Regions from separate parts of the Homo sapiens genome. Here region 2 is linked to region 1. The links come from fine-mapping of genetic effects on gene expression. A gene starts in region 1. The other region holds a variant in brackets. All regions are shown on one strand. Distances are from middle to middle.

Region 1 (2,919 bases):
GAATTTGAAGATGAAGATACACTATGTACTTTTCGGACAAAATGTGATGACTTTAAGATTTCTTGTCACTAAATTGGGGATGGGGGCTTACTAACTTTAAATTATTTAAGTACTTCAGACAAAAACTAATAACTTCATATCTCTCACAAAGCAAACATTCTGTCTATACACAGAATTTACTAGAACCTGTGAGGAAACTGTAATCATTATCATTTCCGTTTTACAGAATAAGGCAATCAGAACAACTGACTTTCCTAACATCACAGACCTAGATCAGAATTCAGAACTCTGTGTCCAATCTTAGGTCCCTTCCAATATTACAACCTGCAAACTAATCAAACCGGCATCTGTTTTTACATTTCTTTAAAAAAAGCAAAGCAATTAAAAAAAGGACCCAATTCTGCTCAGAGACGAATATGTATTTCTTAATTTGGATCTAACTTTATAACATGGTGATCAACCCAAGTACACTGTACTCGACTCCGAAAATCCTGCTCGTCACTTTATATTTTGAGTCCTACTAGAGACTTTGATGAATTGCACTCAAGAAGACGCGGCCCCCACTACGCAGTGGCTACGGGAGATGGCTTCCAGGGCAACTGTTCTCCAAGTTCATTTCTGAGCGCCGGGTAACCATGGCCAGTAATTAATCCAATTCTAAGCGTTGCTATCAATTCTACGCGTTGCTATCAATTCTACTGATTTCCCTGATCGACCAGAGTCTTCCCATTGCAGGAGCTTTTGTCACAACTTAGGCTTTACCTGTACAACCGTCATCTCCACAGAGGAGCGACAAGCCTTTATGCAATATGGACACCAAGAAAACCGCCTTCGAAGACACGCAAGGCAAAATTCTTGCCAGTGTCCGGAAATACCCGTCTCTGGAACCCAAAAGTCAAACTAAAATTAAAAGTTCGGCTTAGCAACACCGCGAAAGGCGATGTAGGCGTCCACCTGGAGTTTAGCTGCCTCAACCTCCGCCCCGGCCTGCCGGGTCTCTGGGGACCCCGTCTTCCTCCAGCGGGCTCTGGGATGCGGCCCGCTCACCTCTGACCCTGGCCGGATCTCGCGCGTCTAAGCCACCGCGTTGCCAGTCGCTGGCCACCCACCTACCGCCACCGCCCACCTGTGCGGGTCGCCTCGCCGCTAGGCCCCAAGACGGCGCCGCCTGCTCGGCAGCAAAGCCCACCCGCCCCGTCGGCGGCTCAGTGCTGCACCCCCACCAACAGCCAGTTCCGGCGGCCGCACTTCCGATTGGCAGGCTGGGCCGAGGGGCGGGGAAGGCGGGCGGAAGGGGAGGAGCCGGGAGGGCGGGGCCGCTGCCAGGAGCCTGGAGCGCTGCGTTCCGCGCAGGACGCCGGTGAGGCCCGCAGAGACTTGCGTCCGGGCGGGAGGCGGGGCCCAGGATCTCTGCTCAATCCTGGAGTCCGAGTCCGCAAAGTGGGAGGGAGGGTGTAGATGTGAATTTGGGGAAAAACGACCCTGTTGAATTTCTAGAGTGGAAGAAACATAGAACTAGCTTTTCTCTTTGCTTAGCACATACAAATGGAAAAACAGCGACACCGTTACCTACATTTACTAGTCCAATGCGTACAACCTTCTGTAGTATATCAACTGCCAATGAGTTTATGTTTTTAAAAAAACCACCCCAGAGAAGGGTTCTAAAAATTCAGAAACCGCATTACTAGCACACATTGTAAGGTCTGTTTTGTTTTGTTTGTTCGTTTGTTTTTCAGACAGAGTCTCGCTCTGTCGCCCAGGCTGGAGTGGAGTGGAGAAATCTCAGCTAACTGCAACCTTTGCCTCCTGGGTTCAAGCGATTCTCCCTGCCTCAGTCTCCGGAGTAGCTGGGATTATAGGCGTGCACCACCACACCCGGCTAATTTTTGTATTTTTAGTAGAGACTGTTTCACTATGTTGGGCAGGCTGCTCTTGAACTCCTCATCTCAAGTGATCCACCCGCCTTGGCCTCCCAAAGTGCTGGGATTACAGGCGTGAGCCATCATGCACGGCCTGGGGTGAATCTTTTTAATGAGCATTTATTATTTGCCGTTCACAATGCCAAGGGTCATAATGAATGAAAGTGTCTTGGAATTAGAGTTAGTGGTTGCACACATTATAAGTGTATTAAAGTACACTCCAAAATAAAATCCGAACACATTAAGTGGTTACTCCCATTCCTCCCTCTCTCAGCCCCTGGCAAATGCCAATCAGCTTTCAAACTGTGGTACCTATTACGGATATTTCATATAAATGGAATGTGTGACCTTTTGGTCTGTCTTCGTAGCATAATCTTTTGCAGGTTCACCTTGTACACCTTGTTGCATGTATCGGTACTTCATGTCTCTTTATGGCTACTATTCCACTGTACCTAGATGCCACAGTTTTACCTGTCCATCCACTGATGGACATTTGGGTTGTTTCCACTTTCGGGCTATTGTGAATAGCAATGATATGAACATTTGTATACAAGTATTTGTTCGAGTCCCTGTTTTCAATTCTTTTGGGTATAAACATAGTGGAACTTCTGGGTCTTATAGTAATTCTACGTGAAAATATTTGAGGAACCCATAAACAAATGTTTCTACAGCAGCTGAACCATTCATTTTACATACCAAGAGCATTGTCGGGGGATTCCAATTTCTCCACATCCTCACTAACACCATAATTTTCTATTCCTTTGATAGTAACCATCCCAAAGGGTATAAAGTGGTATTTTATTGTGGGTTTGATTTGCATTCCCTAATGGCTAGTTATCTTGAGCATCTTTTCATGCCCTTGTTAGCCATTTGTATATCTTCTTTGGAGAACTCTCTATTCAGGTATTTCCCCATTTTTAAATTGAGTTGTTTGTGTTTTTGTTGTTAGTTATGTGTAGTCATATATTCTGGATATTAGACCCTTATGAGATATATCATT
Region 2 (2,919 bases), 22 kb before region 1:
ATTTTTTAGCAATAAAGTATTTTTGAATTAATGTATATAGATTTTTTTTTAAACATAATGCTATGGCACCCTTAATAGACTACAGTACAGTTGACTCCTGAACAACATGGATTTGAACTATGCAGGTCCACTTAAACTGGAGTTTTTTTTTTTTCTTTGAGACGGAGTCTTGCTCTGTCGCCAGGTTGGAGTGCAGTGGTGCGATCTCAGCTCACCGCAACCTCCACCTCCTAGGTTCAAACAGTTCTCCTGCCTCAGCTTCCTGAGTAGCTGGGACTACAAGCGCACGCCACCATGTCCAGCTAATTTCTGTATTTTTAGAGACGGGGTTTCACCATGTTGGCCGGGATGGTCTCGATCTCCTGCCCTCATGATCCACCCGCCTCAGCCTCCCAAAGTGCTGGAATTACAGGTGTGAGCCACTGCGACCAGCTAGGAGATTTTTTTCAATACAAGTTACACTGAGTGTGCATGCCTCTTCTGCCTCCCCTTCCATCTTCTTTATCTCTTTGCACCCCTGAGACAGCAAGATGAACTTTTCCTCTTCCTCCTCCTTGGCCTACTCAATGTGAAGATGATGAGGATGAAGACCTTTAATATGATATACTTACTGAATAGTAAACATATTTTCTCTTAGGATTTTCTTAATAATGTTTTCTTTTCTTTCTAACAGTTAATTCTAAGAATACAGAGCACAATACACATAACATACAAAATACATGTTAATCGCCAGGCATGGTGGCTCACATCTGTAATCCCAGTACTTTGGGAGTCCGAGGCGGGCAGAACGCTTGAGCTCAGGAGTTCGAGATCAGCCTGGGCAACACAGTGAAATCCTGTCTCTACCAAAAATAAAAAAAAATTAGCTGGGCATGGTGGCATGCACCTATAGTCCCAGCTACTCAGGAGGCCGAGGTGGGAGGATCACTTGAGCCTAGGAGGCAGAGATTGCAGTGAGCTGAGATTGTGCCAATGCACTGCAACCTGAGTTGCAACCTGACTCTGCCTCAAAAAAAAAAAAAAAAAATCCAGTAAGGCTTCCCAGCCAACAGTAGGTATTAGTAGTTAAGTATTAGAGGAGTCAGAAGTTATACATGGGTTTTTGACTGCACAAGGGCCACTGCCCCTAACCTCTGTGTTGTTCAAGGTCAACTATATAGTGTAAATGTAACCTTTTTATAGACTAGGAAACCAAAAAGTTCATGTGACTTGCTTTATTGCAGTATTTGCTTTACGGCAGTGCTCTGGAATCAAACCCACAGTAACTCCGAGGTATGACTATAATTTGTAGAGCACGGAATGGTCAGGTTGTAAGAGTGGCTACTCATTAATTCAAGAAACTATCTGAGCACCTATGATGTGTTAGGCACCTTTCCAGGAACTGGGGATAAGGTAGTGAGCAAAACAAAACCCTCTGCTCTCACAAAACCTATAGGGTCATAAAGGGTTATGGCATTTTTCAGTAACTGTGAAGTAACAGTCCTATCCTATACTCAACTCAACTACATTACAAGAATAAAAATGACTCTGCTAATATTGTGTGAACTCTATATACCCAATTCCAAACATACAGGCTCTTTACTATTATCACATAACATATTTTACTGAATCCTATTATTTTGCTTAACCTCTGAAATATCTTGATA[A/G]CTAAGGCTATTTTTTTTAAAAAAGTGAATCAATTAATAATATTGCTAAATAAGAATTTGTTAGAATTAACCAGTTGCTTTCTCATGTCCATTAACTAGATCTGGCTGGTTTCTTCCTCATTGTGTCACTTAAGAGTTTATTTTATTCACTGAATTCCTATAAACTGCTAGTTACAACTAGTGGCTTGATTTAATATGGGCTCTTTTTTTTTTTTTTGGACAAGAGTTCTTTATTGGTACTATTACTACTGTTGTGTACTGTCTCTTGCATCAAACCAGGAGGTACACAATAATTGACTGTCTCATCTTCAATCAGTGGGTTTGATCAGATTTCTACATTATAAAATTTCCCATTAACCTATCATCTAATGGTTTTCACATCCAAGAAATACTGCTGTCTAGATTCACTACTTCATTAAGACTTTCAAACTTTTATTTTTTAAAAGTCTATCATTTCTTTTGCACCTATTAGCTGGAAATTTTCCTAAGAATTTTCCCTCAGTTACTTGGCTGCCTAAAATACAGTTCATAACAAGAAGGGCAGGATAAATATTATATTCTCTCCTTTATCAATCTTCAGAGTAAGAATCTGATGCCCTAGCAAACTCTGATGGTAACCAATGAGTTTTTCTGTTTTCTAATATTCTTTTAATAGCTTTTAATCTTTTTGTAGATGACAACATTATAGCCCAAACCAAAACACAATACTTGGTAGTTACTGATGAACTGAAGCTTAGTTTATAATCACATGTCACAGAAAGGATAACTACCATTACTGATATTTTCTTTTGACTTAGTAATTATTCCTCACTATAGTCAGGCAACTGAACACTTTTGTGAGTGGACATCTCATATACAAGGGGTCTTTAAAAAGTTTATGAAAAATGAGTATTAAGAAAAAACTATACATAGGTTTCAAAACTTTTTGCACCAAAATAAACATGTACTAAGCTGTTATAACATGTCTGAACAGAACCTAGTTTGAAACACTAAGAAGGATAAGACATCAGTTTGAAAACAGCCTTTACCAGAGCAACAGGAATTCTGCTAAAACTGAAGCAAGAACAAACATCAAATTGATGGTGAAGCTTGAGTGGAAGAATTGTGAAATCACTGATGCTTTTTGAAAAGTTTATGAGAAGAATGCCTCAAAGAAAGCAGCAGTTTACAAATGGGTAACTTGTTTTAAGAAGGGACAAGACTATGTTGAAGACGAAGCCTGCAGCAGCAGATCTTCCACATCAATTTACGAGGAAAAAAATTCATTTTGTTT

What was found.
Region 2: its variant is fine-mapped to the expression of SUPT20H in whole blood (INTERVAL, PIP 0.97).

What each region holds. Positions count from the first base shown.
Region 1 is chr13:37,058,433-37,061,351 of GRCh38, forward strand. It overlaps SUPT20H (SPT20 homolog, SAGA complex component), which reads right to left and starts at 1,256. Exons shown (of 26, transcript NM_001014286.3): 1 at 1,127-1,256. RefSeq lists a silencer at 1,168-1,427.
Region 2 is chr13:37,036,186-37,039,104 of GRCh38, forward strand. All of the region lies in intron 9 of SUPT20H (SPT20 homolog, SAGA complex component), which reads right to left. Among named protein-coding and RNA genes, the nearest start is that of SUPT20H, 22 kb to the right of the region's middle. The variant A/G (reference allele first, on the strand shown) is at 1,647.